Homo sapiens: one gene and its partners. The protein of the gene in region 3 purifies or fractionates together with the protein of the main gene of each other region. This does not show direct contact. Each region holds a gene or a part of one and is shown on either strand. Other genes may lie near its edges.

Region 1 (3,500 bases), on a different chromosome or scaffold from region 3:
GAGGAGCAGCCTGCCCAGGGCCAGGGCACAGAGCTCTCCCCACCTTTTTTGAGGGGTGCTTCCCCCCACCCAGTCTATGAGCAGAGTGTCCACCCCCAGCCCCCTGGGCCTCACCTTCCTGGTTCGAGCCAAACCTTAGGAAAGCATGGCCCATCTCCACGAGCAGTGCAAAAGCGTTCTTCCGTGCGCCCACCGACACCTCCTTGGTGCACAGGATCACCTGGCCAAGACAACTCCATCAGCATCTGCTCCCTGAGCCATCTGCCCGGGAAGCGAATCGAGTCCTCCCACTCCCATCACTGCCCTCCCTGGATCCTGAGGCCCTTAAGAGCCACATTCCAGGGACCCCCCTCTAAAACACACCCGCACACTCACCTCTGGGATGAGGGCAGTGATGAACTCCTTGTGTTCAGCTGAGAGCTTCCTCACGATGTGTAGGAGGCACTTCAAACGGGGCTGTGGGCAAAGGGCTACCAGTCAGGACCCCTCAATGCTACCTCCACCCAACAAGCCTCAACAGTGGCTCCTTTCCTGGTGTTGCCCAGGCTCCCTCGGCAGAGCGGGTGGCCCTAGAGCCCTCACCCTCTTGGCGGGTGAGGAGGTGCTCCGCAGCGAGTCCAGCAGTGTCTTCTTCAGGTCCTCCAGGTGGCTCTGCACGAAGAGGGCCCCGGGGCCCTGAGGACTGGCACACACCTCCTCCAGCACTCGGTAGGCCTTCTTCTGCACCCCGTGGGCCTTGCTCTGGCAGACAGGAACCGGTGAGGGAGGCCTGGGGCTCACTCCCTGTCCAATGCTATCCACGGAGCATCCCCCAGCACTGGAGGGATTCTGAGCAGGGGTCCGTGGGGGCTCATGTGGCTTGACAGAGGACCAGTGGAATGTGGACAGCGAGTGGCTAACTCCTGGGCGAGGCACAGGGGTTGGGGGTGTGTGCCGTGGGGCCCACCAATCCACTCCACTCACCCAGCTCTGGACAGTGCTCACTCCAGTGGCCTGAGCTCATGGTGCCTGGCACGCGCCAAGGCCTGCACATCTGCTGCTCTTTCTAGCCGGAGCACTCTTCTCTCTCCTTCCAAGACTGACAACTCCTTGCTCCTCCAAACCAGCTCTCTGTCACACTCCCCCAACCCCCAACGCCGGACACCTTTCCTGAGGTGACGTGGCCTGGCCCTGGATTTCCATGTCCACCTGCAGTGCTGCCCCAGAGCACTTCTCACACTGTTAGGTAACTGCTACTAAACTGTGGCAATGGGGGCAGCTTTCAGGGGGTCACTGCTGGGCTGAGATCTGCAGGGTTGCTGGCCACAGCAGAGGGCATTTCAAGCTGAGGACCCAAACCCTGCAAAGGCACAGACAGGGCCTGTTATATCAGGGAGGCTTAAGGCAGCTGAAGGAGGCTGCAGCAGAAGTAGAGAGTGGACTGGGTGGGATAAAGCTCAGGCCGGTCTGGGATGGGCCTGGGGAGTGAGCCAGGCAAAGGAGCATGGCCTTGGTTCTACAAGAGTCACTCAGCACGCAAGGCCTAAGCACAGCTGTGCATTTCAGTCCCTTTGGGACCTGCAAGACAGATGGGCTACACAGGACACAAAGAGAAGCCACTGCAGGAGAAAGCAGACAGGGACCTGATCTCGGGAAGCAGCAAGGGACAAAGACATGAAGACAGGCCCCACCTTCCCACAGCCCATCTGCCCCCAAGCGTGGCTGTGTGGCGCTCCTGGCCCCCGAGGCTCACCTCTAGGTAGGGCCGGATGGTGGAGTATAGCTTACTGATGGCAGCTTCGTCAGCACACGGAGCCAAGGCCACGACCAGGTCCAGGACAGACAATCTGCTCGGGGCAGGAGGACAAGGAGAGGGATGGGGAGCTGGAGAAGGGCGCAGACTACCAGTGTTCTTACGTCTACTGGGTATGGGGAGGTGGGAGAAGTCAGGGTGAGGACAAGGGGCTTGAAGGAGCTCATGAACAATAATAATAGCTAGTACCTAACTGAGCATTCATGATGTACCAGTCACCGTTCCTGGTGTTTTACACCTGCTAACTCCTTCAATCCTCATAGCAACCTTGTTGCAAGAACTATTATCGTGCCCATTTTACAGATGAGGCCTTAGAGGCAGAATGGATAAGTAATTTGTCCAAGGTCACACAGCCCATGAGTGACGGGGCTGGGATCAGAACCTGGGCAGTGTATCTCCTGGGTCCTTGTTCCTCCCTACCAGACTAAATGGCCTCTCCAGGAAGAAGGAACTAGTCAGCACAGCCTCTCAGCACAGCCTGGAGAGTTAATACTTCAAGGCTTCCTTAAATAATGCAAGAGGGAACCCACAGTGCTTCTGCCAGATGCACCCTCCAGCTCCCTGGGCTGCTCCAGCTCAAGTGGGAGGCCCTGAGCATGTTACCTGGTAAAGTCAGAGCTGGCAGGGTCGAGCACCTTCTCACTGGCTTTTTCCAGGAGACTGTTCACCAACTTGTGGCCCCGAGGGAATGAGGAGAAGAGAGTCATTGGGGAGGAGCGAAAGAAAGCAGCAATGGCAGCAGTCCCAGAGCGGCCTCCCCATCAGCCCCCAGCCCTGCCCAAGCCATGACTGCTGGTATGTGCTCCAAAACACAGAGACCCACGTGAGCCCTGGTGGGTAGGGTCTCGGCCTCTCTGACCCTGCCCACCTGAGAGCTCCCCTCCTCCCTCCTTCCCTCCCTTCCGTGGCTCACCTGAGTGTCAGTGATGGTGAGGTAAGTTCTGATGGTTTCCAGCACAGCCCGGCGAGGGGCTGGAGTGTCCCCGGCTGCCACGGGCTGCCCATACAGGTTGAAGAGGATCGGCAGAAAGTTCTTGGCAAAGCGACTCACTTCAGCACGGTCAGCCTCTGGTAAAAGGATCAAAGTTTGCACTAAAGGCACAGGAGCTGACTGTGCCTCAGTGGCTGCTGGGGCTGTGGCCCAGAGGCCCTCTCTTGGGGGAGCTGGCAGGACTTGGAATCCATGGGTTTGGGGCTCTCTGTGGCAGAAGCTGAGCCAGGGCATGGAGAGCCTGGTGCCCCAGTGGCCCATGGTCCTCGATGGCTCCAACCCCAGGGAGCCAGCAAAGTTATCCCCTGGGGTCTGCAGCAGAAGCAGCAAAGGATGAGCTCCAGAGGTGAGTTTCTGTGGCTCTGCCTGGCAAGGAGTGTAGCAAGCCAGGGGATGGGGCCAGGGACCTGTGTCATCCTCCCCAGCCCCCACTCCCACAGCCCACACGTACCTGCCTGGCAGCCCTTGGTGATGAGGGTGCGCAGGGCCTGGCACACGGTGACCCTCAGGTCTGGACGCTCGCTGATGGCCATGCCCAGCGTCCGTGCCAGCCCTTTGAAGGAGATGGCCACATCTGTAGGCCTTGTGCAGAACCCAGGCAGGAGTGTCCACATCTGGAGAAGGAGGGGACAATAAAGGAAGGTGACACGCAGCCACCTGTGCCCCTGTGTGCTTCTCCCCACGCCCTCCCCCAGCTGACCCTTACCTGCCACTGGA
Region 2 (3,500 bases), on a different chromosome or scaffold from region 3:
TTACAAGAAAAAATCAAACAACCCAATCAAAAAGTGGGCGAAAGATATGAACACACACTTCTCAAAAGAAGACATTTAGGCAGCCAACAGACATGAAAATATGCTCATCATCACTGGCCATCAGAGAAATCCAAATAAAAATCACAGTGAGATACCATCTCACACCAGTTAAAATGGCGATCATTAAAAAGTCAGGAAACAACAGGTGCTGGAGGAGATGTGGAGAAACAGGAACACTTTTACACTGTTGGTGGGACTGTAAACTAGTTCATCCATTGTGGAAGACAGTGTGACGATTCCTCAAGGATCTAGACCTAGAAATACCATTTGACCCGGCCATCCCATTACTGGGTATATACCCAAAGGATTATAAATCATGCTGCTATAAAGACACATGCACATGTATGTTTATTCACAATAACAAAGACTTGGAACCAACCCAAATGCCCATCAATGACAGACTGGATTAAGAAAATGTGGCACATACACACCATGGAATACTATGCAGCCATAAAAAAGGATGAGTTCATGTCCTTTGTAGGGACATGGATGACACGGGAAACCATCATTCTGAGCAAACTATTGCAAGGACAGAAAACCAAACACCGCATGTTCTCACTCACAGGTGGGAAATGAACAATGAGAACACTTGGACACAGGGTGGTGAATATCACACACCGGGGCCTGTCGTGGGGTGGGGGGAGGGGGAAGGGATAGCATTAGGATATATACCTAACGTATATGACGAGTTTATGGGTGCAGCACACCAACATGGCACATGAATACATATGTAACAAACCTGCACATGGTGCACATGTACCCTAGAACTTAAAGTGTAATAATAATAAAAAAAGAAAGAAAGAAAGAAATGTCAACCTGATGAGCACCTGTGCTGTGGGAACAAGGAGGCAGGAGATCAGCGATGGCTTCCCAGCAAAGACAGAGGCGAGCTGAAACCAAGCATTCTGGACAAAGTGTGCAAAAGCTGTAGAGCAATTTCAGGGAACTGCCTGCAGTTACAGGGTAGAGGAAGCCTATCATCAAGACTATGCCAGAAAGGCCAATGAGGATGTAAATGTCAGGCAGGAGAAGGCCTGATATGCATCCCCCACATGGCCTAGCAATGAAGAGGCCACTTAGGGTCCTGATGGATTCAATTCTGGTGTGATAGTAGAAAGCTAAAGCCAAATTAGGCTGGTTAGGGACTGAGAGGGAGGTAAATGGCAAGAATATAAGCCATTTTTCCAGTAAGGCTGACTGAGGAAAGGCAACAGACAGTAGCTCCTGCAGGCAGGGGTAGAAGAACAGGTTTAAGGTTGAAGTTACTTTTTTACAGTGAGAAATTTGAGATGGTAAAGCGCCAACCGCAAGGAAGAGACTGTAGGCCAAGAGTTGATGAATAGGAGACAGAGGGCAGGGGAGGAGGCAGAGGCTAGAGCGAACAAGGATTCCCCACTGCTTCACATGAGGTAAGAGGAAAGAAGGGGAGCAGAAGCAGAGATGACTAGGTGTGAGGGAGCTTCAAAGGAGTGGAGAAGGTTTCAAAGAGGGCTGGAGGGAACAGGAAAGGAGAGGCTGGGACACAGAGGTGTTGCTGGGTAACAGAGCTAGAAAGCCGAGCCATGTGGGCAGTTCCTTCTGTGCTCACTTCTTGGGCTAGAAGTACATAAAACCTTACTTGCTTAATTGCCATAAGAATGGTTGTAACAGCACTGGCCAGACTCGAGACTCCTCTGACACATGTAGAAATGTTGCTTGCTAACAATCCCTACACCAAGAGAAATCTTTCTCCAAGTACAGATCTTTACCTTGGATTGTTTCAAGTAGCGAAGAAAACCCAATTCTTCTGGGCGCAAAATGAGCAAGGCATGCCCTCTCCCATTTAGGCCTCTGGCTGTTCTACCCACACGATGAATATATTCCTTTGGTGGAGAAAGAAAATCTGAGTTAACGCAGTGACTTCCACATGAGCCCATTTGCGTATCTGCATCCTGAGTATGTGCATGTCTGTACTGAGATGGTGTAGTCCCACGGTGCTGGGCCACACACACCTTCACCACACCCCCACAAAGCTGGGCCAGCAATCGCTCTGTGCACATCACCCCCAATAGGCCAATGATTGAGGCCCAAAAAAAAAAAAAAAAAAAAAAAAAAAAGGCTGGACATGATGTTTGCATTAACAGCGATCTAATAAAATGAGTATTATGTGTGCTTCATCATCAAAACGGCTTTAATCCAGTGTTTGTTGAAAATACTTCTCAATGAAGCTTATTCTACCACATATACTACAGAAGTTTATCTACTTCCTTAAGCAATTTTATTTCCTTCAGGCATCTGCTGTTCTTAAGAGATCATTCCAAGGATCTCATTTTCATAACTTAAGTCCCACTGATCCTTTTCAATCCTCTGGCACAGCCCGTTTGAGCCCTGAAAAGCCTTAAGTACTTTTCAATACCAGAGAAATACTGCAGTCACTGTATAGTAGGGATCTTTACCTTGAATGTGGAATGCAGTTTCCGTCAGGGAACTGGGAGAATAAGTGAACTTTTAATGCAGAGTCATTCTGAAGATATTCCAAAGATGCCAGTTACCTTAGGGTCATCCGGAGGGTCATACTGAACAATCCAGTCGACTTCAGGAATGTCTAGTCCTCTCGCTGCCACATCCGTACACAATAGTGTTCCCGAATCTGCATTGCAGAACTGGAAGAATGTGGTTGTACGCTTATTTTGCTTTTGCTTTCCCTAGAATTAAATAAAAACATCCATTAGAGCTGGAATCTTGAGGAAGACTAGCAGTAGAACCCCCAAATTGTGGAACTGTTACCCTATTTCGAGCTCATCCCTTGGCCTATGTCCTATTTCCCCAACTGTTCCGCAAGCCCCTCAAGGAGGATGGTGTCTTGCACTCTTCGAAAGTCCTCATACCCCTCCACACCCAGCAGCGCTCCCCCACACAGGATCCATCATCTAGTGGTGATCAAACTACTCAGAACAATGTTTCCAGGAGAGGGCAATACCTCCAATCCTACAATCTATAGGATTTAATAAGCATACCCTGTTTTCAATGAGCTCATCATCATCACTTACATGAATGGCCAAGACGGGCAAATCAATGTAGTTCAGCAACTCATAGTGGTATTTCACAGACATACAAGATGAAAAGAAGACCATAAGCTTCTTCTTTCGGTTCTTCTTAAGGAATGTAAAGAGCAGAAGGAATCTCTTTTCAGAAGGACAAACAACATATCCCTAGAAAGCGTTTAAGCAGACAGATACAAATGAACCAAGTGGACATTTTCCATTTCCTAACTTGTGTAATTTCATCAAGAGCACTGATAAACACAGTGTGTAAACTGTCATGCCTCACCTACAGCATTTTAAAAGTTCATTAACCCATTTGCTTTCTGAATGATCCTTCCAACAATTACATAAAAACACCAAGTAAGATCCCTACAGTTTTCAGTTATTGATAAAAAGTACCTGTTCAAGACCATCCAC
Region 3 (4,247 bases):
ATCTTATGGTTTTTCTCTGTTAAAAATCCTTATTTCCTTTCAGGTTGTTTGGGCAGATAGTTACAAAGTTGGCTGCGCAGTTCAATTTTGCCCTAAAGTTTCTGGCTTTGACGCTCTTTCCAATGGAGCACATTTTATATGCAACTACGGACCAGGGTAAGTGCCTGAATCAACCGGTTTATAGGAAACGCCCCCCCCCCCCCGCAAAAAAAAACAACAACAAAAAAAAACATTTTAGCAGTATTCCTCTTCATTATAGAAAATCTGGATAAAGTATAAATAAAAAATTAACATAACCTTTAATTCTTCTGCCCAGAGATATACTTAATTAACATTCTGGTACATTTTTCTTGGAGAGAGAGAGGGTGTGTGTGTGTGTGTACATCCTTTATATATACTACCTAAATACATACGCACATATTTTTAAGAGTGGTAAGACTAAAATATTCATCAGGGACATAAATTGTATATGGTAATACCACAAAGTGGAAGAACTGATGTTATATTTATTGGTTTATTAGAAACTTGGCAATTTTACACAATTTTCAAAGCAAAACAGATTCCTCAACTTATATAACCTATTTCATTTACTTTTGACAGTTGTTTTTAAAACAGATATAGTTCCCACTTTGGGAAACAGGGCAAACACCTTCCTCCTACTTTCTTTAAACTTACATATGTGTGCTTGTGTCATACACATATTTAGAAATCTGATCATACTGAAAATATACATTTTCTATTTTTCACTTAAAATTATGCTGTGAAAAATTTTCCTTTTCAAAATTTTAAGTGATTTTAATCATAAAAATGATAGATTGTTTATATAATGCTTACAATGCTCTCAGCACTGTTAAAGTGCTTCACATATATTAACTTAATCTTCACCAGAAGTTTATGAGATGGCTCCTATTACTACCCCTGTTTGGCAAATGAGAACAGCAAGGCACACACGGGTCAGCAACCTGCCCAAAGTTCTACAGTTAGTGACTATCACTGATGGACTTTGATCTGGCTGTCTAGCTCCAGAGTCCATGCTCTTGATGGTACCACCATCCTGTTGAAGAATTTAGATTGTTCACTATATTTTCATTTAATATATGATGAACAACCTCATATATGTATCTTCAGTCACTTCTATTTCCCTATAATTCCTTGAGATACTAGCACGTAAAGACTGTGACCATTTTTGTTTTAAGTACATATTGCCAAATTACATTCCACCATTATATCAATTTGTATTTCACCATCAGTACTAGGTATTATAATTTCTTAGTATTTTCTAATTTGATGGAAATGGCATTTCATTTGCTTTCTTTTGCATCTCTGTGATTACTAGTAATTATAAATTTCTTCACATAATTGTCTATTTATATTCCTTTTTCTGTGAATCATGTGGGCTGACCATTTTTCTACTAGATTTTCTTATTTATAAAAGTTTTTATATTTTAAAGGTTTTTAACCATTTGCAATATATATAATGATCTTTAATTTGTTGCCTTTGAATTTTTGGATTCCTGGAGATTGGCTGAAAGAAAGCCATTTCCCTGGTGTAATGTGCAGAAGACATGCTCGATACTCTGACTGAGTGCTGTAGGTGTGAAGGAGGAGACAAAGCGTCATTCTGAAGATGACAGCTTTGACTTAATATCTTAAGAGTTGGAAAATAAAGAAAACCCAGAAAAAACTAGACAAAGCCATAATTCAGTTAGTGGTAACTTTTCATGACTTTTTTTTTTTTTTTTGAGACAGGGTCTCTCACTCTGTCACCCAGGCTGGAGTACAGTGGCTCGCTTACGGTTCACTGCAGGCTTAACCTCCCAGGCTCAAGCAATCCTCCCAACTCAGCCTTCCTAGTACCTGAGACTACAGGCACATGCCACCATGCCCAGTTAATTTTTTTGTAGAGACAGAGTTTTGCCATATTGCCCAGGCTCATCTCCAACTCCTGGGCTAAAGTGATCCACCTGCCTCAGCCTCCCAGAGTGCTGGGATTATAGGCATGAGCCACTACACCCGGCCTCATATGACATTTTTAATGGTTAAGATACAATTAATTTACTGTGTGACCCTGGACAAGTTAACTCTGAATCTCAGTTTAACCTCCAATAGATCAGGGTTACAGGACCCATCACTTAGAGTAGCTATGAAAGTGACAAGAGAAGGCTTTGTAAAATACTAGGTATATATAATGCTTGGCAATAGTGAATGTTTTGTAAGTATTCATGATTTTTATTCATTAAAGTATAAATGTAAATTTTCCTGGTTTAGACTCACTTATCTTCAGAGTTATAAACAATATTAAATTATAAAACTTACAACCAAAGTTATAATGCTTCCATAAAGACTAACTTCAAATATTCATTTATTCAACAAATATTTGTTTTACTGAGCTCCAAAGGAGAACAGGGCAGTCTCTGTCTTTATGAGAGTAATATTTATGGGGCAAACAGATAATAAAAATACAAGTAAAATAACTGCATCATTATGGGGCAATTAAGGAACTATAAATAATACTGTAATAGAAACTATCAATAGGCAAGGCCCCTGTTTAGAATAATCAGGGAAGGGCTTCTTGTGTTATATTTAAGCTTAGGCATGAAGAATGAGAAGGAATCAGACATAAGAACTTCTGGAACAGCTGTCTAGTGGAGAAAAGAACAGCAAAACTTCCGTGAAGAAAAGTTTGGCAAGTTTAAACCACAGAGACTGGTGCCCTCGGTCTGCTAAACAGATGAAACGGGGGGAGGAAGGCAGTTGCAGATCTAGCGGGAACTTTTAGATCATGACAAAGTTTACATAAGAAGTCATTCAAGTATATTAAGCAGGGGAGCGATGAGACCTTTAAATTTGGACATCAGTCTGGATGGAAAATGGATTAGAGGAGCATAAAAGGTAAAACAGAGAGACCAGTTAGGAATGTCCTCATTTCCCTTTGCCCTCTGCCCTCTGAGGTATTATTTTCCTATACACAAAAAGTTGTAGGCCCCCATTCCACATAATCTTAGGAAGTCCAGTATCCTCCTCAATATTTCTGATACCTCAGAATGGGGTCTGGGATGCTTAATCTTCCAGTTGCCTGTAATACTCTCCTCTTCATTTCCCCTGGGCACCATGAACAAGGGTATGGTGTGTAACAGATCTTTACTCAGAGTGGATTAGTGGAGGAGAGGATTATAGCACAGAAGAGGAAATAACTTTGACCACAAGATAGTCAAGATAGTACCAGTGTGCTTAGGCCGTCACTGCCTTAGGGACCCTTACCCATATTTATCTTTTTCTTTAAAGATTTGTCTTCGGTCTTCCCCTGGGTCCCATAACCCCAACCCTCTTCTCTCTCAGGCTACCAGGGAAAACATTGAAATGTCCTGTTGCTTTATTGTGCTGAATACTTTAGGTCCCACAGTCTTAATGACTCCCATCTAGACAAATCCAGGCCTTTCCAGTAGCATGTTTCTCCCAAGATGAATACTACCATTTCCACAGACCTCACCGACTGTCTTGGTTTTTAGCTTATTTTTAAGTAGCATTTTTTACCTTTTCCTTTACAGTTTGGAATGCACAACTAAGTATCATAAATGACTTTATTAAAATCATTCTAGAACTTAAACCACTTAATACTGTGCTTATTAACAATGAAAGACATTCCAATGATTAATGTCTATTTTGGACATCTTTTGAAATTGCTATCAGAATTTCTACTATATTACCTTTTTTCCATGGTGTAGAGTAAGCAGAGGGCTAATTAAATTTCTGAAGCAACTTAAAATTTGGAGCAAAATGAGATAAGAACATAGATTTGGGGTTGGAAATAAGGTATCGTTATAAAGTTGTGTGTCTAAGGTGAGAGTTCTCAACTTTGGAGGTAATTGTAGAGTGCTGGGGAGAGGAGGACCATAAACTTTGATTAGAAAATAGTTTTATTTTTATTTTCACTAACCTCTATTAAAAATAACATTTCCTTTCATTATGAATGAAGACAACACTCCACCATCATATTAGCAATAAACGTGACTCTGACTTAGCAGTATCATCTTTGTAAATATCAGATATTTTCATACCACATTCCACTTGCTGCAGAGAACTCAAAATATAGTTTGTGTTCATCACTGCATTGAAACTAATAGCCCCCGGTAGATCTTAATAGAGAAGCACATATTACTTTATCACAAATCTTGTTTTAAACATTTTGATAACTATTTCAATTTAATTGGTTTCCTTTATAATCCTATGTATTTTATGCATTTAAC
Region 4 (3,500 bases), on a different chromosome or scaffold from region 3:
TACACACACCGAGAAGTGGAATTGCTGGGTCACATGGTAACTATGTTTAGCCTTTTGAGAAACTGCCAGTTTTTCCAAAGTGGTTGTATCACTTTACAGTTCCACCAGTAATGTATGAGGGTTCCAGTTTTCTCACGTCGTACACTAACACTTTGAGACCAGCCTGACCAACATGGAGAAACCCCGTCTCTACTAAAAATACAAAATTAGCCGGGCATGGTGGTGCATGCCTGTAATCCCAGCTACTCGGGAGGCTGAGGCAGGAGAATCGCTTGAACTCGGGAGGCAGAGGTTGTGGTGAGCCAAGATCACAGCATTGCACTCCAGCCTGGGCAACAAGAGCGAAACTCCATCTCAAAAACAAACAAACAAACAAACAAAACTATTTTGTTTGAAAAGTTTATTTTAGTCATTTTAGTGTGTGTGAAGTTGTACTTCATTGTGGTTTTGATTTGCATGTACTTGATTATATTGAGCATCTTTTCATGTGTTTATTGTCCATTTATAAGTTTCTTTTGGAGAAATGTCTGTTCAGATACTTGGCCCACTTTTTAATTGGGTTATTTGTATTTTTGTTGTTGAATCGTAAGAGTATTTTACATCTTCTTGAGTCAAGGTTCTTATCAGCTATATGATTTGGAAATGTTTTCTGTTCTCTGGGTTGTCTTTGCATTTTCTTGATGGAAGCATGGAGGTTTTAAACTTTAATGGAGTCCAATTTATCAGTTTTTTTCTTTTGTTTACGCTTTTGGTGTCATATCTAAGAAACCATCACCTAATTCAAGATTATGAATATTCATTCCTGTGGTTTTCTCCCAAAAGTGTTATAGTTTTAGCTCTTACTTTTATGTCCATGAACCATTTTGAGTTAATTTTTGTACATTTAGTATATGGTGTAAAGTAGAAGTCCAACTTCATTTTTCTGTATGTAGATATTCAGTTGTCCAAGCACCATTTGTTGAAAAGATTATTCTTCCCTATTAAATTATGTTGGCACTTCTAAAAGAAGGATTCCAAAAGTAGATTAAGAAGCAGTTTTAAAAGAGGATTCCAAAGATGTTACTTACTGTTCCAGTAACTCATGTCCTCCAGAGGTGATTTTTGAAGAGTGCGTATTTTTGGCAGTTACTTTCCATGGCAGTTCAGTTACTTCATGTTCATTAATTTCCCTGACTACTGGTTGTCATTTTAATTGTTTAATTGTAGTAATAATTTAATTGTTTGTTATTTTGAAGGAAGGGGAAGGGAGGTTCAATGATAAGAAAAGCATTCTTCCTTTTTAATTTAAATAATTAGAACATACAATTTGTACTGAAATGATGTAAAAAGGCTCTTATTATTGAATCATTGGTTTTGCTTATCCTTTTGTTTGAAGTATAACTTGTCATATCCTTTATAGCCACTTAAAAAAGGAGAGAAAGAAAAGAAAAAAAGCAATTTGGAACTCTTCAAAGAAGAATTAAAGCAGTAAGTTTTATAGTGTGGAGAATAACTATCATAGGTGTATTGAGCTGATACATAAACAGATGCAAGTATAAAGAATATACTGTACCAGTTAGTTATTACTAACCAGTTTGCTATGAGATTGTTTTAGATATTATAATATTTGGTGGGCTATCTTTGAAAATAAATTAGCATTTAGTCCAGCACCTGGGTTGCTTGCATTACGAGGATTCAGTTCAATTGATTTACTTAATGTCCAGAGTCCTGTTTGCAGTGGAAACAGTATACTCACTGGGATGGGAGTGAGGGGCAGTTAGACTTAGCAAGAAACAAATTCAGTGGTTTTAGTGTTTAATTTCCTCCTCACCTTTAAAGTAGGCTTTGTGTTCCATTGGTAGTATGATATATCAGAAATTTGCTCGTGGTTGTATTATAGCTGAGGGACCCTCTAATCTTGGTTATCAGTACCAGTATTTAATTACAGATATTTCTAGTTATTTGATGATAGTAATTTGATAAGCGCTATTCTGAAATGTGAATGAACAAATTTTGGCTCATTATAAGTGATTGTAAATATTTTCAACAGAATTCAAGAGGAACGTGATGAGAGACATAAAACAAAAGGCAGATTAAGTCGATTTGAACCTCCTCAGTCAGATTCTGATGGTCAGCGTCGTTCTAGTAAGTGGCATTTATTTTAATGTGTATGCTTGTGATTAATTACAGTAGTTCCCACCTTATCCGTGGCGGGTTACATTCCAAGGATCACCAGTGGATGTCTGAAACCATGGATATATACTATCCTTTTCCTTACACATTCATAGCTGTGGTAAAAATTAATTTGTAAATTAGGCACAGTAAGAGATTAACAACAATAAGTAATAGAACAATTATAACAATATACTGAAATAAAAGTTATGTGCAATCCCAACACTTTGGGAGGCCGAGGCAAGTGGATTACCTAAGGTCAGGAGTTCGAGACCAGCCTGGCCAACATGATGAAACCCTGTCTGTACTAAAAATACAAAATTAGCCGGGCGTGGTGGTGCGTGCCTGTAATCCCAGCTACTCAGGAGGCTGAGGCAGAAGGATTGCTTGAACCTGAGAGGCAGAGGTTGCAGTGAGCCGAGAACGTGCCATTGCACTCCAGCCTGGGCGACAGAGCAAGAGTCTGTCTCAAAAAACAACAACAACAACAACAGAGTTGTGTGAAGTGGTCTCTCTTTTTGTCTCTCAGAAATACCTTACTGTAACAAACTGGGGGAAACAAAGGTGAGGGTAAGGGGGGACTACTGTATTATAAAAACTAATAATTGTCTTCTTTTCTCCCCTTTAAGTGGACGCGCCTTCAAGAAGAAATAGATCATCTGGTGGTAATACAGTTTTTTGCTCTTTTAATCGATAAATTTTCCAAACTTTATGTTTTGCAGGTTATAATTCTTTTTTTCTTTCTGCCCTAGTTCTTGATGATTACGCACCTGGCTCACATGATGTAGGAGATCCAAGCACTACTAATTTATACCTTGGAAACATTAATCCACAGGTAATATTAAGTAAGATGAATGTTGATTGATATGCTTTATGCTTTTGGAAGAAAGCTTTGTTAGTCAAAAAAAATCAAGATTCTGAAGCTGACAAATCTGATGGAATTGGATAGTCTTTAGAGTTGTCTTACTGGTATGGCCCAGGTTGTCTTGCCACATATTCTTGTTTCCTCTTTCAGTAACTAGATTGAACTCTGGATTTGAAATGTTTTACTAGGTGCTGATTTTATTATTAAATCAGGGTGTGACCATTGATGAATAATATTATTTTGAGACTGTCCACTTCTGATGCATACTTGTTTCCTTGTGGAGTCCCTTTTTCTTCTCATAGTAGTAAACTACTCTTTGTGGTTTGTCTTTTATATTTTAATTCTTTTCCTGCATTGGTGCTGTTAATTATGATATGGGGAATGTAGTAACGGTAGTATATAATATGCTATTATTAAAAATTATATTTTGCATATATACTGTTACCTGTTTTCTCTGCATTTGATTACATGGGTAGTTGATTGT
Region 5 (3,500 bases), on a different chromosome or scaffold from region 3:
GTTCAAGAGCAGCCTGGCCAATGTGGCAAAACCCTGTCTCTACTAAAAATACAAAAATTAGCCAGGCATGGTGGCGCGTGCCTGTAATCCCAGCTACTTGGGAGGCTGAGGCAAGAGAATCGCTTGAACCCAGGAGGCGGAGGTTGCAGTGAGCTGAGATCACACCACTGCACTCTAGCCTGGGTGACAGAACAAAAAATAAATAAATAAATAAATAAATAAACCTCAAAAAAGTAAATAAATAAAATAAATAGTTTTAGCCATTTTTAAAATGGTAAAAAACAAACAAAAAATAAATACTTTATCTCAAAAAATAAATAAAAATAGTTTTAGCCATTTTTAAAATGGTAAAAAACAAACAAACAAAAACTGTTACAAACAAAAATAGAGTGCTATGATGACCAAAAAAGTAAAATGCGAATAAGAAGCAACTACTAAGATGCCAAGTAAGACAAACTTAAAAAAATGAGTAATAAGACTTAAAAGGGCTAGAGATCCAGAATATATAAAGAATTAAAACCACAATGAGGGCTGGGCGCGGTGGCTCACGCCTGTAATCCCAGCACTTTGGGAGGCCAAGGTGGGCAGATCACGAGGTCAGGAGATCGAGACCACCCTAGCGAACATGGTGAAACCCTGTCTCTACCCAAAATACAAAAAAAAAAAATTAGCCAGGGGTGGTGGCATGCACCTCTAGTCCCAGCTACTCAGGAGGCTGAGGCAGAATGGCGTGAACCCAGGAGGCGGAGACTGCACTGAACCGAGATTGCACCACTGCACTCCAGCCTGGGCGACAGACCGAGGCTCTGTCTCAAAAAAAAACAAAAACAAAAACAAAAACAAACAAAAAAAACCACAGTGATACAATTTCACATTCCTTGTATTGGCACAAATTTTTAAAAGCTGACGATACCACTTGGCCACTATGTGAGGCAAGGGAAGGCTCTTATTCTTCTGGTGGGAGTATAACTTGGCAAACACACTTCGGAAAACAATTTGGCATTATCACATAAAACTTTAAGAATCAAAATTCCACTCTCCCTCTCTTTCCACGGTCTCCCTCTCCCTCTCTTTCCACGGTCTCCCTCTCCCTCTCTTTCCACGGTCTCCCTCTCCCTCTCTTTCCACGGTCTCCCTCTCCCTCTCTTTCCACCGTCTCCCTCTGATGCGGAGCCGAGGCTGGACTGTACTGCTGCCATCTCGGCTCACTGCAACCTCCCTGCCTGATTCTCCTGCCTCAGCCTGCCGAGTGCCTGCGATTGCAGGCGCGTGCCGCCACGCCTGACTGGTTTTCGTATTTTTTTGGTGGAGACGGGGTTTCGCTGTGTTGGCCGGGCTGGTCTCCAGCTCCTAACCGCGAGTGATCCGCCAGCCTCGGCCTCCCGAGGTGCCGGGATGGCAGACGGGGTCTTGCTCACTCAGTGCTCAATCTTGCCCAGGCTGGAGTGCAGTGGTGTGATCTCGGCTAGCTACAACCTCCACCTCCCAGCCGCCTGCCTTGGCCTCCCAAAGTGCCGAGATCGCAGCCTCTGCCCTGCCGCCACCCCGTCTGGGAAGTGAGGAGCGTCTCTGCCTGGCCGCCCATCGTCTGGGATGTGAGCAGCCCCTCTGCTCGGCTGCCCAGTCTGGGAAGTGAGGAGCGCCTCTTCCCGGCCGCCATCCCGTCTAGGAAGTGAGGAGCGTCTCTGCCAGGCCGCCCATCGTCTGAGATGCGGGGAGCGCCTCTGCCCTGCCGCCCCGTCTGGGATGTGAGGAGCGCCTCAGCCCGGCCACCACCCCGTCTGGGAGGTGTACCCAACAGCTCATTGAGAACGGGCCATGATGACGATGGCGGTTTTGTGGAATAGAAAAGGGGGAAAGGTGGGGAAATGATAGAGAAATCGGATTGTTACTGTGTCTGTGTAGAAAGTAGACATGGGAGACTTCATTTTGTTCTGTACTAAGAAAAATTCTTCTGCCTTGGGATGCTGTTGATCTATGACCTTACCCCCAACCCTGTGCTCTCTGAAACATGTGCTGTGTCCACTCAGGGTTAAATGGATTAAGGGCGGTGCAAGATGTGCTTTGTTAAACAGATGCTTGAAGGCAGCAGACTCGTTAAGAGTCATCACCACTCCCTAATCTCAAGTACCCAGGGACACAAACACTGCGGAAGGCCGCAGGGTCCTCTGCCTAGGAAAACCAGAGACATTTGTTCACTTGTTTATCTGCTGACCTTCCCTCCACTATTGTCCTATGACCCTGCTAAATCCCCCTCTGTGAGAAACACCCAAGAATGATCAATAAAAAAAAAAAAAAATCAAAATTCCACTACTAGATCTCTAGGGAAACTCATGTACATGTACACAAAGAAGCATATACCAAAATGTTCAAAGCATAATGGTTTAATAGCAAATACTTAAAACAATATCAATTTTACTTTGTTTTTTCAGAGGCAGGGTCTCATTCTATTGCCCAGGCTGGAGGGCAGTGGCGCAACTGCACCTGACCGCAGCCTTGTCCTCCCAGGCTCAAGTGATCCTCCCGCCTCAGCCTCCTGAGTAACTGGGACCACAGGTGTGTGCCACTGTGTCCAACTAATTTTATTTTTTAATGTTTTTGTAGGAGCTATGTTGCCCGGGCTGGTCTCGAACCCCTGACTTCAAGAGATTCTCCCACCTCGGCCTCTTGAAGTACTGGGATTACAGATATTAGCTACTGAGGCCAGTCTCAATTTTAATAATAAGAAGATCAATATATAAATTGTGTACATTCATGCAAAAGAAAACAATGAAGACATTTCAGGGAATCAGAGTAGACCTTCTCTAAAATTGGTGGGGCCCAGAGCAAGGTTATAAATGGAGGCTTGGATACAAATGTCTAAATATTTAACAGTAATAAATCATGCTGAGCTGGGCTTAGTGGCTCATGCCTGTAATCCCAGCAGTTTGGGAGGCTGAGGCAAGAGGAATGCTTGAGCCCAGGCACTCGAGACCAGCCTGGGCAAAATAGTGAGACACTGTCTCTATACACACACACACACACACACACACACACACACACACACACACAAATTAGCCAGGTATGGTGGCACTAGCCTGGTCCCAGCTACTGGGAGGCTGACATGGGAGGATCGTTTGAATCCAGGAGGTGGAGGCTGCAGTGAGCCATATTTGCACCACCACACTCCAGAGTGGTGACAGAACAAGATCCTGTCTCAAAAAAAAAAAAAGTATATATATATGTATATGTATATGTATATGTATATGTATATGTGTGTGTGTGTTTATATATGATATATATAAAATAAAAACTTTAATACAAAAACTTTAAAATTTGTTGTAAAAAAATTTTTTTGGAGACAGAGCCACACTCTGTTGCCCAGGCTGGTGTGCACTGGCATGAACATAGCTCACTGTAACCTCAAAATTCCTGGGATCAAACAATCCTTCTGCCTCAGCCTCCAGCACTGCTAGGACTATGGGCATGCACCACCACGCCCAGCTAATATTTTTTATATA
Region 6 (2,756 bases), about 57 Mb from region 3:
ACCGAGGGGATTAGGGGTGTGGTGTGAGCGAGGCGGCGGCACTCACCGAGGGGATTAGGGGTGTGGTGTGAGCGAGGCGGCGGCACTCACCGAGGGGATTAGGGGTGTGGTGTGAGCGAGGCGGCGGCACTCACCGAGGGGATTAGGGGTGTGGTGTGAGCGAGGCGGCGGCACTCACCGAGGGGATTAGGGGTGTGAGCGAGGCGGCGGCACTCACCGAGGGGATTAGGGGTGTGGTGTGAGTGAGGCGGCGGCACTCACCGAGGGGATTAGGGGTGTGGTATGAGCGAGGCGGCGGCACTCACCGAGGGGATTAGGGGTGTGGTAGGAGTGAGGCGGCGGCACTCACCGAGGGGATTAGGGGTGTGGTGTGAGCGAGGCGGCGGCACTCACCGAGGGGATTAGGGGTGTGGTGTGAGCGAGGCGGCGGCACTCACCGAGGGGATTAGGGGTGTGGTGTGAGCGAGGCGGCCGCACTCACCGAGGGGATTAGGGGTGTGGTGTGAGTGAGGCGGCCGCACTCACCGAGGGGATTAGGGGTGTGGTAGGAGTGAGGCGGCGGCACTCACCGAGGGGATTAGGGGTGTGGTGTGAGCGAGGCGGCGGCACTCACCGAGGGGATTAGGGGTGTGGTGTGAGTGAGGCGGCGGCACTCACCGAGGGGATTAGGGGTGTGGTGTGAGTGAGGCGGCGGCACTCACCGAGGGGATTAGGGGTGTGGTGTGAGCGAGGCGGCGGCACTCACCGAGGGGATTAGGGGTGTGGTGTGAGCGAGGCGGCGGCACTCACCGAGGGGATTAGGGGTGTGGTGTGAGCGAGGCGGCGGCACTCACCGAGGGGATTAGGGGTGTGGTGTGAGCGAGGCGGCGGCACTCACCGAGGGGATTAGGGGTGTGGTGTGAGCGAGGCGGCGGCACTCACCGAGGGGATTAGGGGTGTGGTGTGAGCGAGGCGGCGGCACTCACCGAGGGGATTAGGGGTGTGGTGTGAGCGAGGCGGCGGCACTCACCGAGGGGATTAGGGGTGTGGTGTGAGCGAGGCGGCGGCACTCACCGAGGGGATTAGGGGTGTGGTAGGAGTGAGGCGGCGGCACTCACCGAGGGGATTAGGGGTGTGGTAGGAGTGAGGCGGCGGCACTCACCGAGGGGATTAGGGGTGTGGTGTGAGTGAGGCGGCGGCACTCACCGAGGGGATTAGGGGTGTGGTAGGAGTGAGGCGGCGGCACTCACCGAGGGGATTAGGGGTGTGGTAGGAGTGAGGCGGCGGCACTCACCGAGGGGATTAGGGGTGTGGTGTGAGCGAGGCGGCGGCACTCACCGAGGTCGCAGGCGCGGGTGAGGAAGTCGATCATGAGCGTGGGCTGCGCCAGCTGCGGCAGGATGGCGTCATGCACAATCAGCAGCACCTTCTTGTAGAGGCTGAGGGGCAGCTGGGCGGGGGCCGGCAGGTGGGGGTGAGGGGCGGGTGGGCGGGGGCCGGCGGGTCGGGGTGAGGCCTCCGCCCTGGGGGAGACCCGGATGCCGCCCCCGCCCCCTCCCCGGCCTGGCCCCTACCTTGTGCTTGAGGAAGCTGAGCCACATGGCCTGGAAAACCCTCCTGTGCTCCTGCAACGGGGTCCAGACTGCACTCGCCGCCCTCCCCACCCCAGACCAGAGCCCGAGCAGCTGCCAGGGCACCCCGAAGCCCAGCCTGAGCCAACACAAGCCTGCTCTCCACTTTTCTGACCCTGCCTTCCTTCTTCCTGTCCCCATTCAAGTCAGGTACGCCTTGCCCTCGAGGCTGGAGTCTCAGAACAGCCAAGAAAGCAGCTTTGGCAAGACCATGGCCAAGAGGGGGGCTGCGCCCAAAACAGCCCACGGGGCCCACAGGTGGCACCAGAGGCTTGACTCCAAGAGGCGGCGGTGGCCTCTGACCCAAGGGAGGGTCCCGAGTTCACAGGTCTCGTCACCTCCCACACTTCGAGTGACCTGGTGGCCGTGCAAGCTGCCACCTGTACCCTGGGAGTTTCCTCTGGTGAGGAAGGCGGCAGCCTCCATGGGGTCTCACATGCACCCCACACACACCCCCAAACCCGGGAGGGTGCCCGGCTCTCCAGAAGCAACTCACCTTCAGGTGAGCAACCTTCCAGGTGTCCCACAGCTCTGCAGGGAAAGCGAGGGCAAAGGTCACCTGACCCGCAGGGGAGGCAGACCAAGGCTCAGCCCTGTCCGCCCCTGACTCTCAGCACACTCACCCGCCCGCTTCACATAGAAGCTGGAGACGGTGGGCTCCCGGCGGGGCAGGCTCACGGCAGACAGCAGCGTGAAGGCATTGTTCCAAAAGGCGGGGGGCACCTGCGGAGCCTGGCCTGAGTGCCTGGACGCCGCCCCCCAGTCCCTGCCTCCCTGGGAGGCAACAGCATGATGCTGGCGACAGGACCCCATCACCCACCTCGGGGTGCTGGCCAGTGACCCGGGCCACGGCATCCACGGCTGCCTGCATGGTGTGGTAGCGGGTGTCGTCGTAGTCCAGGTACTCCCGGAACTGGGACAGGAGCAGGCTCTGGTCCTCCTCAGGAGACAGCAGGCCTCCCACCACCAACTAGGGGCAAGGACCAGTGAGCAGCCCTGCCCGGCCCAGCATACGCCAGCAAGGTCCAGGCAGGCAGCCCTGCCCCATCGAGCCCCCCAGGCAGACTCCTCCTGGTTGGGTGGGCCACAGGAGCCACAGGAGTGTCCCAGCCAACAGCCAGGCTCAGCTCAGCAGGCCCCGCCCCC
Region 7 (3,075 bases), on a different chromosome or scaffold from region 3:
ACTCCTGACCTCAAGTGATCCACCTGCCTCCGCCTCCCAAAGTGCTGGGATTACAGGTGTGAGCCACCGTGCCTGGCCAAAATATCTCTTTTCTTAGGAGATAAATACTGAGATATTTAGAAGTGATTAATTCACTTATAACTTGCTTCAAATGACTGAGCTAAAAACAAAGAAACCAGATACATACACAAAGAGGAAAAAAGTGAACACAGCAAAATGTTAATTGCAGAATCTAGGTGGTGGGTAGACGGGTGTTTACTGTGCCATCTGTGTTTAAAATTTTTCCCGGCCAGGTACAGTGGCTCATGCCTGTAATCCCAGCACTTTGGGAGGCTGAGGCAGGAGAATCACTTGAACCTGGGGGGCGGAGGCTGCAGTGAGCCAAGATTGCGCCACTGCACTGCAGCCTGGGCGACAGAGTGGTACTCTGTCTCATAAAAAAAAAAAAAAAAAATTTTTATCCTAAGAGTTGGGAAAAAAAAAGAATGCTCTCTGAAGCCAGGCACCTCATGAGTAAAACAGGCTACAAAGCCCCATGTCCCCGTCACCTCCACCAAGCTCCGGCCCATGGCTAGGTGAAGAACCAGCCCCTGAGCCATAGCCTCCCCTCCCCAAGGTGGGCTAACAACAGCGCCCACCCTACTGAGAGGGTTCACCCTCCCAGTCTGCAGCCCAAGGACAGCAGCCTGGTCTGACCTTGGCCGAGCCACGCCTGACCTCGAGCTTCAGCAGCTTACCTGCATCCCACTCCAGCAGGCTGGGGTCCTCCCAGCTGCTCCCTGCCGCTGTGCGAATGCACCGTTTCAATTTCTCTGGCTTCCCCTTCTTCTTGTCTTCACCCAGGGGCTCTGGGACCTGCAGAGGAAAGGGGAGAGGTGCAAAGGGGTTGGTATTGGGGTCTCCCACTGTCCTTTGGTCCCCGGCCCTCCTGCCACCACAGTAAGGGCTGGATGTGCTTCTGGATGTGGGGCACATGTGTCCGCCTCCCTCCCCCAGGTCCTCCTGCTGTCCGGTCTGTCTGTGTGGAAGTTCCTGGGCTCCTGTCTGCCCCCCGTCCCTTCTGTCCCTTCACCGCTAGGCTCCCTGCTTACCTCAAGAGCCATGAGGCCTGGGGGTGGCTCTGGCCGAGGGGGCCGGGGCCGAGGACGCAGGGACAGGAGTTCAGGAATGCGCAGCGGGGGCAGGAGGCCGCGGACGACCTCCAACGGGAGGGGCAGGGGCTCAGGCTCGGGCAATGGCATGGCCAGGGCCAGCGGCAGGCTGGGCCCAATGACTGCAGGGCCAGCTGGGGCACCTCCTGCCCCCACGGCCACAGCCGCGCTAGCCTCCTCCAGCCCAGCCGCCGCCGCCACCACTGCCTCTTCCTTCTCTTTCAGGCCCAACCCCAGGCCTAGGCCCAGCTCTCGGGGTGCTGCTGGCTCTTCCTGTGGGTAAGAGGAGAGCATGAGGGGGGCCGGCTCACAGGCTCAGACTTTACTGTCATCTCCATTCCATCCAACAAAGAAAGGGCCTGGGGGCCAGAGAGCAGCCAAGAGACACCCAAGCAGAGAGTCTCCAGCCAGACAAACACAGAGAAGGAGAAACACAGGCAGAGAGAGACAGCCACAGACAAGAACATCAGTAACAATCAAAAGAGAAATATTCCAATAGCATGTTTCTCTCTGTACTCCCTTCACAAAAGGAGAGAACAGATTTTGCCACAGAAAGATGCAGAAAGAGACAGAGACAAAGGCAGAGTGAGAAGGTAGAGAAACAGAAAGTCAGGAGAGAGGCCAACTCAGACATAGCCCATTGGGCCAGGATGGATGGTCTCCCCGTCCACCGCACATCTGACCGTTAGTTCCCTGTTCACACTCACCAGAGGGGGCCTCAGTGCAGCCATGGAGCCCAGCGGGGGCCCTGGAGCCCGAGCCATTGGTGGCAGCATCATGGGTGGTCCAGGGGGCCCAGGCAGAGGGGGGCCCACGAGGGCCTGGTGAGGGGGCCGTAGGGCCATAGGGCGGGGGCCGGCTGCTGCAGAGGAGAGAGCGGAATCTGTCAGGGTGTTAGTGGGGAGTTCCAGGGCCTGGGGGGAGTTATGTGGCAGGGATGATGACCCTGGCCCCTCACCTGCTCTCTGTAGCACGTGGGGGACGAAGGCTGGACGCAGGATAGGGGCCCTCTGGGGGGCCACAGCTGTGGGAGAGAGAGATGGGGGTGTGTGTCATGGGGGACAGGGGCACTTGGGACAAGGTGTGTGTGTGCATGCGTGTGTGTGTGTGCACTCTCAGCATCAAGAAATCCTGGAGAAGAGTCTGGGGAGCCCTCCTGGAGATGTGGGGGCCTCTCCCCTGGTTCATTCCATGAAAATTTACCACTGAGAAGCTCCTCTGGCTCAGCCCTGTGGCAGGCAATGCTGGGGACACACCAACAGACCCAGGGTTCTCAGGGAGCTCCTGGTCCAGAGGAGGAGGGAATGGAGACATCACTAGAGAAGGAGAGCCAGTGGGGACCAGCGCTGGAAGCAGGGAAGCCCAGGCAGTGGGATCAGTGCTAAGAGAGGGGAGCCCTCTGACCCAGCCAGGCCCAGGGAAGGCTTCCTGGAGAAAGGGACCTGTGAGCTGAGACCCAAGGGGCAATGAAGTGTTAGGCAAGGGGTGAGTGGGAATATTATTGGCAGGAAGAATATTTATAAGCAAAACCTTTCCCTTTTCAGTTTAGTGTAACTGTAATAGAAGTAGTGGGGCTTAGAGAGTGTCATGAGAAGGGCTGAGCAGCCAGCAGGCACCCCAGTAGAGCTTTTTTGTTCTTAAAGCACAGCATTCTTGGCTGAGCCATGGGTGTCCTCCTGAGGGCACTGGGGAGCCACAGCAGGGTTGGAAGCTGGGCAGGGGAAGTAGGTCAGATTTGCATTTTGATCAAAACCATACTAAAAAGTAAGAGACATTACAACTTCTCAGAGATCATCAGATTAATAAGTATAACAGGATTTAGGTAACATAAGTAGCACGTTTGGTTTAACCGAGATTATACCAGAATTTTACATCCAAGTAAGAACACGCATCCTTTTCATACATATAAGGAAGTAATGTCCTA

What was found.
Region 1: the proteins of KRR1 (region 3) and RRP12 purify together in Homo sapiens (affinity purification with mass spectrometry; 2 studies listed by BioGRID and IntAct, with this or other methods). This does not show direct contact.
Region 2: the proteins of KRR1 (region 3) and DDX18 purify together in Homo sapiens (affinity purification with mass spectrometry; 3 studies listed by BioGRID and IntAct, with this or other methods). This does not show direct contact.
Region 4: the proteins of KRR1 (region 3) and U2SURP purify together in Homo sapiens (co-immunoprecipitation; 2 studies listed by BioGRID and IntAct, with this or other methods). This does not show direct contact.
Region 5: the proteins of KRR1 (region 3) and ZC3HAV1 purify together in Homo sapiens (affinity purification with mass spectrometry; 2 studies listed by BioGRID and IntAct, with this or other methods). This does not show direct contact.
Region 6: the proteins of KRR1 (region 3) and NOC4L purify together in Homo sapiens (co-immunoprecipitation; 3 studies listed by BioGRID and IntAct, with this or other methods). This does not show direct contact.
Region 7: the proteins of KRR1 (region 3) and RBM42 purify together in Homo sapiens (co-immunoprecipitation; 2 studies listed by BioGRID and IntAct, with this or other methods). This does not show direct contact.

What each region holds. Positions count from the first base shown.
Region 1 is NC_000010.11:97,370,341-97,373,840, forward strand, and holds part of RRP12 (RRP12-like protein), read right to left. Parts: coding exon 3,490-3,500; intron 3,398-3,489; coding exon 3,235-3,397; intron 2,861-3,234; coding exon 2,706-2,860; intron 2,464-2,705; coding exon 2,396-2,463; intron 1,827-2,395; coding exon 1,733-1,826; intron 742-1,732; coding exon 583-741; intron 457-582; coding exon 376-456; intron 221-375; coding exon 115-220; intron 1-114.
Region 2 is NC_000002.12:117,824,691-117,828,190, reverse strand, and holds part of DDX18 (ATP-dependent RNA helicase DDX18), read right to left. Parts: coding exon 3,483-3,500; intron 3,252-3,482; coding exon 3,090-3,251; intron 2,745-3,089; coding exon 2,592-2,744; intron 1,923-2,591; coding exon 1,809-1,922; intron 1-1,808. UniProt on the Homo sapiens protein: ATP-dependent RNA helicase that plays a role in the regulation of R-loop homeostasis in both endogenous R-loop-prone regions and at sites of DNA damage.
Region 3 is NC_000012.12:75,490,363-75,494,609, forward strand, and holds the end of KRR1 (KRR1 small subunit processome component homolog), read right to left. Parts: 3' UTR 501-4,247; downstream 1-500. Other genes in the region: GLIPR1 (glioma pathogenesis-related protein 1 precursor), read left to right, coding at 44-156. UniProt on the Homo sapiens protein: Part of the small subunit (SSU) processome, first precursor of the small eukaryotic ribosomal subunit.
Region 4 is NC_000003.12:143,018,570-143,022,069, forward strand, and holds part of U2SURP (U2 snRNP-associated SURP motif-containing protein), read left to right. Parts: intron 1-1,399; coding exon 1,400-1,467; intron 1,468-2,029; coding exon 2,030-2,124; intron 2,125-2,780; coding exon 2,781-2,816; intron 2,817-2,903; coding exon 2,904-2,986; intron 2,987-3,500.
Region 5 is NC_000007.14:139,099,721-139,103,220, forward strand, and holds part of ZC3HAV1 (zinc finger CCCH-type antiviral protein 1), read right to left. Parts: intron 1-3,500.
Region 6 is NC_000012.12:132,147,457-132,150,212, reverse strand, and holds part of NOC4L (nucleolar complex protein 4 homolog), read right to left. Parts: intron 2,581-2,756; coding exon 2,431-2,580; intron 2,334-2,430; coding exon 2,234-2,333; intron 2,142-2,233; coding exon 2,107-2,141; intron 1,622-2,106; coding exon of another isoform or gene 1,605-1,621; coding exon 1,554-1,604; intron 1,430-1,553; coding exon 1,318-1,429; intron 1-1,317.
Region 7 is NC_000019.10:35,632,036-35,635,110, reverse strand, and holds part of RBM42 (RNA-binding protein 42), read right to left. Parts: intron 2,176-3,075; coding exon 2,110-2,175; intron 2,035-2,109; coding exon 1,859-2,034; intron 1,425-1,858; coding exon 1,092-1,424; intron 856-1,091; coding exon 738-855; intron 1-737. UniProt on the Homo sapiens protein: Binds (via the RRM domain) to the 3'-untranslated region (UTR) of CDKN1A mRNA.